Linked DNA regions of Homo sapiens: region 1 is linked to region 2. The links come from fine-mapping of genetic effects on gene expression. A gene starts in region 2. The other region holds a variant in brackets. All regions are shown on one strand. Distances are from middle to middle.

What was found. PIP is the estimated chance that this variant, and not a neighbour inherited with it, causes the effect.
Region 1: its variant is fine-mapped to the expression of ATP10A in esophagus mucosa (GTEx, PIP 0.96).

Annotation. Positions count from the first base shown.
Region 1 is chr15:25,881,826-25,887,310 of GRCh38, forward strand. No RefSeq gene overlaps it. Among named protein-coding and RNA genes, the nearest start is that of LINC02346, 18 kb to the right of the region's middle. The variant C/T (reference allele first, on the strand shown) is at 2,295.
Region 2 is chr15:25,861,104-25,866,347 of GRCh38, forward strand. It overlaps ATP10A (ATPase phospholipid transporting 10A (putative)), which reads right to left and starts at 2,224. Exons shown (of 21, transcript NM_024490.4): 1 at 1,545-2,224. The coding sequence starts at 1,993. ATP10A-DT (ATP10A divergent transcript) reads left to right here and starts at 4,167. Exons shown (of 2, transcript NR_183988.1): 1 at 4,167-4,805.

The DNA.
Region 1 (5,485 bases), 21 kb after region 2:
CCATCAACCTATAATTCTATATCGAGGAAGAAATATCTGTCAAAAATAAGGACAGTGTGAAATAAGGACAGTTTAAGATAAACAAAAGCTGAGAGAATTCACTACCAGCTGACCTGAGTTAGAGGAGAAGCTAAAAGTTCTTCAGGTGAAAAGAAGTGGAGAAGACTGGATATTGTAAATATAAACCAAAAAAGATACTGTATTATATTTAATTTCTGAATGTCTTTGAAAAGCAAGCAATTGTTTAAACAAAAAATTATACCAATCTATTGTGAGGTTTCTAACTTATGCAAATTTAAAATATATGACACTGATAGCAAAAAAGTGGAGGTTAAATGAAATCGCACTCTCACTGCAACACTACAACATATAGTTATTAAAACAACAACAAGTCAACATAGTGGACTTCTAATACATTCAACAAATTAGATGTTATAGGATATTTCTTTGAAAAACAGTTTACCAAAACCAGTGCAAGATGAAGGTAAAATTTGAATAGCTCTATATCAGTTAAAGATATTAAATTCAAAATCTAAGTCCTAGGCCAGGTGCAGTAAGTAGCTCATGCCTGTAATCCCAGCACTCTGGGAGGCCTAGGCTGGAGGATCACTTGAGCCCAGGATTTCAAGATTAGCCTGGGAAACATAGTGAGATCTCATCTCTCTTAAAAATAAATTTAAAAAATTAGCCAGGCATGGTGGTGAACACTTTTAGTCCCAGCTTCCTGGGAGACTGAGGCAGGAGGACTGCTTGAGCCTGGGAGGTCGAGGTTGCAGTGAATCATGATTGTGTCACTGCACTCCAGCCTGGGCAACAGACCAAATGTCCATCTCAAATTTAAAATGAATAAAAATAGAAATAAAAACAAAATCAAAGTCCTTCCCATAAAGGAAACTCCAGGCCCAGGTGGTACAATTACACACAGATTAGAATGGCTCAAGTGAAAAGGAATAATACCACCAAATATTGGCAAAGAATGTGAAGCAGCTGGAACTCTCAGGCATTGCAGGTGGAAGTGTAAAGCAGGTACTGAGGCGGGAGGTGGGACTTGACTCCAGAGGTGGGGCTCAGACTCCAGACCAGATTGAAGACTAGCTGAAACAGGGAAGAGGCAAAAGCACCTCTCCATAAGACATGCCCACCAGTGCCATGTCAGTTTACCATTGCCATGGCAACACCAGAAGTTACCACCCCTTTCCATGACAATGACCTGACAACCCAGAAGTTACCATCTTTTTTCTAGAAATTTCTGTATAATCCACCCCTTGATTTGCCTGTGATTAAAAGTGGGTATGAAATGACTGCGGAACCCCCCTGAGCTGCTACTCTGGGCACACTGCCTGTGGTTAGCCCCGCTTCACAAGGAGCAGTACCCCCTGCTACTGCTGTGCACTGTGCTGCCATCAAAGTTGCTGTTTAACACCACCGGTTCACCCTTGAATTCTTTCCTGGGTGAAGCCAAGAGCCCTCCCAGGCTAAGCCCCAATTTGGGGGCTCGCCTGTCCAGCATCAGCACAACCACTATGGAACTATGTGTGGTAGTTTCTGTTTTAATGAAATATGTTTATCTGTGATCAGCAATTCTAGTCCTAGTCATGTACTCTAGATAAATGAAAATATATGTACATAAAATGGTTGTTCATTGCAGCTTTATTCAAAATAGCCAAAAACTAGAAACCACTGCAATGTCTATCGACAAGTGAATGGATAAACAAAATGTGTTATTTCCATATGATGGACTGTTATTCAATAATATCAAGGATACATTCAAGAACATAGATGAATCACAGTACATTATGCTGAGTGAAAGAAGCCAGAGATGAAAGACTCCCTAATGTTTGATTCTATGTAGATGAAGTCCATGGATAGGCAAAACTAATGTAGCTTGGAAAACAGTCTAAACAATGGTTGCCTCTGGCATTGAGGGGTGGAAAATGATTGGAAAGGGTCTTAAGGGAACTTTGTGAGGTTTTGTAATATTCTATTAACTGAACAGAATGCCAGTTGCCTGGGTTTTTGCATTTCTTTTTACTTTTGTTGTTACCTTTAAGAAGGAAAGGTGTCAGTGGCTGGGGAAAGCATAAGGGATCTTCTGGAGTGTTGGCAATGCTCTACTTCTTGGCATGACTGTATTTACTTTGTGGTAATCCTTTAACTGTACATTATGATGTGTGCACTTCCCGGAATGTGCAGTATGCTTTTATAATAAGTCAAAAATTAGAAGCCCTTTGGATGACTTACTGTCGATATATGCTATCCTCCCACAGTCTAGTTACGCGTGGCATCTGCATAGT[C/T]AGGCTCAGACATTCTTTAGCCACCCCTGAAGCTTGACTTCCATGCTTGAGCAAATACTTCCTAATCCTGAGAGCTGTCAGGGTTCACTTGAATTCTCTGGTGCGGTAGGAATCATTGTGCCTTTCCCAGAAGGAAACTGATCTAATTGGCTTAATGAAGCCAAGAACCTCTTATTCAACTCTCTTTTCCTTATAACAACATGGTATTATTTCTTTTAATTATGGACTATCACATGGAAATTGCTGACTTATTCTAGCTCCATTAAGTGGACACACTAAGATGAACCAAAATACTTACAAAAAGCACGCAAACACCCGCTGCCTGCCTCTGCTCCCTGCACTCAGTCTCTGTGGTCCCTTGCACCTCACCTTCCCAGTTTGGCTCTGCTTCTTGGTTCAGCTTTAACAGCCTGCTTAGTGCATGCCTCTGTAGCTCCTAGGTCCTGATCTGAGAGAGGGTGCATCTGGCCAAGTGCTTTCAGAGGGAGCATGAGGAGCCTGCCCTGACCTCTCTTGGCCCCTTATTGGGAGACGCCCTTTGGCTGTGATGCATAACCTTACTTTAATGTGGTTGCTGTACACAGCATATTGGATTCCGCCTCATAATAATCTGCAGATCTGTGAGTCTGAGCAATCGATGCCTGTCTAACTGCCACTGTCACTGCATTAGGCTGTCAACTTTCTCAAAGACCTTTCCTAATGCACTGACATCCAAGTCAGTCCCTTTTTATTTCATTTTGTTATTATTTTTTAGAGACAGGGTCTCTCTCTCACCCCAGCTGGAGTGCAGTGGCATGACCATAGCTCACTGAAGCCTCAAACTCCTGGGCTCAAGCAATACTTCTGCCTCGCCTCCTGAGTAGCTGGGACTACAAGCACATACCGCCATGCTGAACTAATTTTTAAGTTTTTTTTTTTTTGTAGAGACAGGGTCTTATTATGTTGTCCAGGCTGGTCTCAAACTCCTGGTCTCAAGCAATTCTCCTGTCTCAGCCTCCCAAAGCGCTGAGATTAGTGGTATGTACCTTTTTGACACTACTCCAGTTGTGTTTGGCAGCTTCCTTCTTCCTGACTTACTTATCTTCAGAGCCCTCATCACCACCTGGTGTTACAGTCTATGTGTTGATATCATTTTCTACATCGCCCCCAGCCTATTTGAATATAAAGTCCATGAGAGGGAAAGGATAGAAATTGTGTTTACTTTGTCCTCTCCTGTAGCTCCAGTACCTGCAACAATGACTGGCGCATAGTAGATTGTCCATAAATATTTGAAAAATGAAAAAATGAGACAATTGGGAAAAGAGAATGAGAAGCTGATAAACATTTGTTGTGCACACACCATAATAATAATAACAATAATAATAATAGTAATAATACAGATGCTCCTCGGCTTATGACGGGATTACGTCACAATGAACCAGTGGTCAATGGAAAATATCTTAAGTAGAAAGTGCATGTGATATACCTGACTTGCTGAATATCCTAGCTCAGCCTAACCCACCTCACCCATGCTCAGAGTGCCTGCAGTTGCCTGCAGTTGGGCAAAGTCATCTCACACAAAGCTTATTTTATAATAAAGTGTTGAATATCTCAGATAGTTTATTGAATACGGTTGAAAGTGAAAAACAGAACAGTTGTGTGGGTTCTCCAGCTACTATTTCTTTTCTTTTTTTTTCTTTTCTTTCTTTCTTTCTTTTTTTTTTTTTTGAGAAAGGTTCTTGCTCTGTGGCAGCCTTGACCTCCCAGACTCAAGCCGTCTTCCTACCTCAGCCTCCCCAGCAGCTGAGACCACAGGTGCCCGCCGCCACCATGCTTGGCTAATTTTTGTATTTTTGGTAGAAACGAGGTTTAACCACGTTGCCCAGGCTGGTCTCGAGCTCCTGGCCTGAAGGGATCCATCCATCTCAGCCTCCCAAACTTGTGGGATTACAGATGTGAGCCACTATGCCTGGCCTCAAAGTACTGTTTCTATTGAGTGTGTATTGCTTTCACACCACAGTAAGTTTGAAAAGTCTAAGTCAAACCGTCGTAAGGCAGGAACCGTCAGTCTAAAAAAGGCATAGATTTTGAGAAAAAGGGAGGCAGAGGAGTTGGGAAGAGAGGTTATAGGACTGATGAAAGATAGTGAAACCAATGCGGATGTAACAAAACACTGAATCAAAGGCAACAAAGACAGGGGTAGGCAGAAGCCAGGAAGGGACTGGGCCAAGTAAGAGGGAAAGGAAAAGGGGGTTCCCTCTGTCCCTTCTCCCTCAATCAGGCTTGTGGGTGCAGGACAGGACGCTAGGCCGCCTGCCATATAGAATTATCTGTGTTGGTCTTCTCCTTTCCTCCTTCCCTGGACTCTGACGTCTTTGTCAAGTCTGGGATGAAGTGGGTGAGAGAAATGCCTTTTCATCATGAGCTTCCCTGAGGTCTCTCTTTCTCCACATGAAGTTTCAAAAGTCTATTTTGGGATGCAAAGGCTGAGAGCTCCAACACTGGGTCTCCTCTCCTCTCCCGGCCAACATTCGAGAGCTGGTAAGACAAGACCTCAAGTTGCTGCCAAAATGGAAGGAGGCCATGGGGAAAGACGGAATGATAAGCATGTCGGTTCAGATCAACATGTTATCTCACCACATGGGTGTTTGTTAGGAAATGAATGTGTTTGTTCTTTTGCATCAATCAGGAGCAGCAGGGAACATGGAGGGGTGGAGGGATGGTGAATGGGTTTGTTTTAAAGAAAAAGACCAGTGAGAGGGGAAGTTCAAGGCCTCTAGTCAAGTCACCCGTGCTTTCTCCCAGGCCCTCATCTCTGTTCCCTTCCCACGCAGACTTGCCCAACCTCCCCATTCTGTGCCAGCAGATCTGGGTGCTTACGCCTGGCTTGGGGAAGTGTGTGTCTTGGAGGGGAAAGGGTGTGGGGACTTCACTTGTATGCACAGTGCACCAGATTCCACAGAGCCTCTGGAGCCCAGGGTTTTTATCATTATGTTTGTTGACTTATTATGTAAAAATTGTACTTTGTTGCTTTTTTATTTGCTTGTTTTAATTGTTACTTGCAGCCATTTTTCCAAACGGCTGTTGTTCTTGAATGTTAGCTGTGCTCACACTTTCCTCATTATTGGTTCCTTAGTGAGCTTTCCTTTCCTTTATTCCTTCCTTCCTTCCCTCCCTCCCCTCCCCTCCCCTCCCTTGCCTTCCCTTCCTTC
Region 2 (5,244 bases):
AGTCACTCTTGCTGACTGGCCAAAGAGCAAGGCTTGGGAGCAGGCAGAGTGGTGTTTCTGAAAGTGTGGGCCATCATATAAGAGTTACGTGCACGCTAATCTAATACATTCCTGGGCTCAATCCCAGGCCTGCTGAGTGAGACACTTTGGAAAACTGTAATTTTAACAAGCGCCTTCAGTGACTCTTACAAAAGTTTCAGAAGCACGAGCAAAGAAATATTCAAAAAGCTGTGCGGGCGGGAAGACCTGGGTCAAATCCCAGTACCACGACCTTGCTGCTGTGTGACACTGGGCAGGTTTACTTAACCTCTCTGAACCCGTTTACTCTGTTTACAAAAATATGGAGCATAACCACTGCAGTGTTGCTGGGAGGGTGAAAGGTACTCAACTACAGAGGCACGCATCCATGGCTTCATCCAAGCTATGAGTGCCTGTGTCTAAGGCATTCGTGAATGCCTACGTTTAAGAGGCAGGAGCCACTCTGACCCTCCTCTTTTAGGGGAACAATCTGCCACTAAGAGAGCATAGGGCTTCCTAGAGTCTCCCCATGCATAATGGAAGCCAGATACCGCTAATGTTCTATTCAGAAGCCCATCTCAGTCCCTGTTCCGGGGTCAAGCAAGGTGAGGCAGGAGGTAACGATGGGCTGAGCTTTGGAGGAAAGCTAAGACGACCCACCTTTCTCAGGGACAGGGCCTTGAGGTGGTCCAGGCTGCTGGACACAGCTCCAAGATGGATCTACCAAGGGGCTCTCCTGGGGTGGAGAGCATAAAGGATGAAAAGGCCGCAGGCCTCTGGACAGGTCCGCCGGAGACTCTAAAACTCAGGGAGGGAAAAAGAGCAGGAGTGGTCCATCGCAGGGTCACCCCTGGTACTGCCCGTGGCAGGGCTCACAAACACCCCACAGCCTCTTTCCCCCAGGAAGCAGGTTAAGATGAAGAAAATTAGGCAGGCAGCTACCGGGCGGTGCCTGGCTCGCGGCTCATGGCTCACAGTGGAGGATGGACACTGCTGTTATTTCCCCTGCCCTGGTACCTGGGCCGTGCCAGACATATCAGCACTTGGCGGCAGTTTCACTTTGCTGCTGTCCTGAGCCGAGCTGTTAGCAGACTGAGCTTTACTGTCCTGTGCCGGCTGTTCAGAGACCACTGTGCCTGGCCGAAGACTGAGGCAGGGACTTCAGGCCAGGGGGCCAGGCTGGCTTTTCCTGCCTTTCACTTCAGGTGGGAGCGGCTGTGGATGAGGATGTCCAGCGGCCGTCGGTTTCTAGCCTTGGGATCATTCTGGCCCCGACACGGAGTGACAGGGGATCCCCACGCGTCCCCGCATCCAGGGCGCCCCTTTAGCTGCGGCGGAGGCACAGAGAGGCCTTGGCGGCGCTGTGGCTTCGGTCGGCACCGGGTCCCGCGCAGCCGGGCCCTCCACCCTGAGTGGAGCTGCCTTCTAAGCACCCAGCCCCTGCCAATCACTGTGCCCAACACCAAGTTCCCGGGGCGCCCTGCCCTGCGCCACCGCGCGCTCGCTCGCCCGCCCGCCCAACTCACCTGCTGAAGACCAGGCAGCCCAGGTGGTTGATCTTGTGGTCGGAGCGGTGGCGGCTGTAGTCCTCCCACAGGTCCCTGAAGGCCGTGATGGCCAGGATGAAGAGCACCGGCGCCAGTGCCAGGCCGGGCTGGAAGGCGTTCACCGCCGGCACGAAGTTGAGCAGCGCGATGAAGACAAAGTACACGTTGGCCGGGCGGTGGAACTGCTCGAACAGGTTCTTGGGCAGGAAGGACAGCAGCGTGTACTTGGTAGTCTTGAGCCGGTTGTCGGCCAGGTGCTGGGCACACCCGCGCCGCCGTCGCCGCTCGCCCTTGGCCGCGCCAGCCGCAGGGTCCTCGGCGCCCGGGGGCGGCAGCAGGTTGGAGCGCACCGTGCGCGTCCTGCCCTCTCGGCGCCTCCGCCGTCCCGGAGGCCCGGGCTCCTCGGTCCCCGCCGGCTCCCGCTCCATGGCCGCGTGTCGCCGCGCCCGGCTCCTCCGCCGCTCACGCCCGCCCGCGCCGGCCTCTTAGGTTATCATCACTCGCGGCCCGGGCGCGGCGGTGCGAGCTCCCCGCCTGCGGGACGCACGGAGACCGCGGTCAGCGCGCCGCCTGGCCGGCCCAGCGCGCCCAGCCCGCGCCCAGCCCCGTCCACTCCCGTCCAGCCCCGCCGCCCGGCCGCAGTCCCCAGGGCGCAAGCTGGGCGGGTGCCGCACAGAGCCCCCTTGTCCTCGCCGCCCGCCCCCGGCCCGGGTCGTTTCCGCCGCGGTGGCCACGGCCCCGCCCTCGTTCCGCGCCCGGACTGGGCCACGCCGGATAGCGGGAAACAAAAAAAGCCCGAGCTGGAAACTTCAGAGAGGTTTAGTTTCGTTTCCCAGAAGCATCAGTTCGGTCCCAAAACGCTGCAAACGCGCGCTGCCTGCAGTAGGAGAGAGGAAACCGCGAAGCGCGAGAAAAGGCGCCCCCGTCCCCAAGCAGCCCGCGCGCCCTTCCAGGGGCCAGACCTGCTCCATCCTGGACGGCGAAACGACCTCGGGAGACCCCGGTTAGGACCTTACTCCAGGGATCAACTGGAATCAAAATCCAAAGGATCCATGGCATCCAGTGCTCCAATTTTTAAGTCTTTTTTACGCAGGACCTCTGCTCCTGGGGAGCCCTGGGAAGGGCGATTCCGCGTTGCCTCTAAGAACTTCTTTCCTACCCCACTTCCCAGCCCCCACCACTTTCAGATTCCGTTGTTGGGCGAACTAGACCGTTTCCTTTCCACCATCATCATTACTGCCTTTCCTTCCTCTCCTAAATAAATTCTTTTTCTTTTTTCTGTTCTTTCTTCATGGAAAGGAGAAATATATCGCTATAGCAAAGACAGAATTTGGTTTGCAGGTATTTGAGTGTCTGTTTCCCTCCCTGGGAAATCATGAGGACCGAAACGCTCCTTGTGCGCTGTAGCTCTGAGGTGGCTGTCATGGCCCGGACGGCGGGGGAGGCGAGGATGGTTGTGGGGAGGCGAGGATGGTTGTGGGGAGGAGAGGGGAGCGTCAGGAGGGTGTCCCAGAAGTGTGGGGCGAAGGGCTCCCCTCCACATCATGGGGCATCCGAGAAGGGGTGGGAGAATAAGCACGGCATGGAAAAAGGAGCTGGGAGTCCCCCACGTCCGCAGTGAGACCCCACAGATGTTTCATGGCTGTGACTGTTTGCCTCCCACTCAAGAAGTACAGAGATGAGAAGCAGTTATTTCTTGCCCAGGAGGCCGTGGCTGGGCGGTTGGCCGTGGCCCCAGGCTCTTCCTGGGGGTGCCTGCTAACAAGGCACTGCCCTGGATGGACTCAAATCACGTCTTCGCCAGGACCCTGGCTTGGGGAGGCCCTCCCCTCCAGCACCCTGGCTTACCCGGCTCCAGTTATGACATTCTTACATCTCTGCCCAGTTTTGCCACCATCCACAATGTTGCCCAGAACCCAGTGTTAGAAGGTAGAGTGGTGACAGGTGTGAAGAAAATAATCCCATCCCCCAGTCACAGGGGTGGGCTTTTGACATGTAGAGGCCCAGATCAGGGAAAGGTTTGGCTGAAGTCTGCATTGTTGGGGAAAGGAGTCAGGTCTCACAGTCAACCAGCAGAAACCCAAACGGAGCATCAACTGCAAATGAAGGCCCACAGCGCCTGCAGTCTTGAGGCCTCACATCCCATGGCTCCGTGTTTTCCTCTACCAGCCCACCTGGTGACCCCCGAGGCCTTCGGCCTCCCTACACTTCGGCCTCCTGTCTTCACAGGCATCCCCGTGGACCCTTCGCCCAAAGTCTCCAGGGGTGTCCGCGCCTACCAGACTCCCAGCTTCAGCCAGTCCACACTGTTGCCAAAGTAATTACCGCCTCATTCCATTTGCTTACCCTGGAGCTTCCAGGAGTACTCCTGGTGCTTACAAAGCCAAATGCTGATTCCTCAGGCAGAGGTCCCTTGAGGCCCTGAGGGGAACCAGCTTGCTGATTTTCTTCAGCCCCTCCCTGGTTCAGGCCCAGCCCCAAGGTGAGAGGTCTCCTTATCCTTCTCAGAACAGTCCTTACTCATCCCATCCACATTCCGCTCTAAGGTTCCAAGATTCTGTGAGTCACAATGCTCCTCAAGTCTGGAATCTTTTTCCACCTGCTCTTCCCCAGTGCAAAGTCAGGATTTCCAGGAAGGCCTAGCTCAGCTCACCTCTGGAAAGGTCTCCAAGCTGTGTGATCTGGGGAATCGTGGAGGGGTTTTGAGCTCAGGTGTCTTCTGCCAGCTGGACTCTGAGACCCTGGCCTGCTGGGGCGAGGATGAGGCTCTGATGTGGTCTGGTCAACTCTGGGTTGGCCATCTGCACCACAGGGCTCTAACAAGGGCCTGCTATAGGCCATGAGAACCACTGTAAGTGTCCTTGTTCGGCAAATACTTACTCATCCCCTGCTGTATGCCCGGCAATGTTCCAGGCACAGGAATTCATCGGAGAGCTAGAGAGGACAAGATGTTGTCATGGAGCTGCAGCAACTGAACGAAAAACCATGAGAGCCCACGGAGGGCTTTGGAAGGGATGAGGGATGGCCTTTTCGAAGAGAGGCACTGGAGTTGAAACCTGAATGGGACAAGATCAGGTGGAAGAGGCTTCCAGACAGAGGGGGCAGCTCTGTCAAAAGGTCCCAAAGAAGGAGAAATCTCAATGTGTTTAAGAAACAGGTGGGGCTTCTGCCTCACACTCATTCTAAAACCTTCAACCCCACAGCTTCTGCTTTAGGCAATGGGGACACCTGGGAAACACAGTAAGTTTCTGCTCCCCGGAACACTAAGTCCTCACGTGGGAATCCCAACAAAGATGGCTCAGAAAATGAAGGGACACCTGAAACCAGGGCTGGGAGGGGTGGGATCCTGCTCTTGCTCCTGTCAATTGGGCGGTCCAAGGAGGCTTCTCAAGCAACACTGAGCGGAGGCCTAGGGACACAAGCTGTGCAGGCACCTAGGGAAGAAATGGTAAGCACGGGGCGGGATAGGGAGCGTTCAGGGATTTCAGGCCCAGCAAGGAAGCCGGGGTAGCTGGAGCTGAGTGGGAGATTGGAGACGTGGCCGAGAGTGAGGTCATGTGGGGCCTTGTGGATCCCGGTGAGGATTTTGGCTTTTGAGCGAGAGGGAAAGCTTGGGAGGATTTTGAGAAGTGGCATCAAGTGGCTTTACCGAGGTTTCCAGAGATCACTCCTGCTGCAA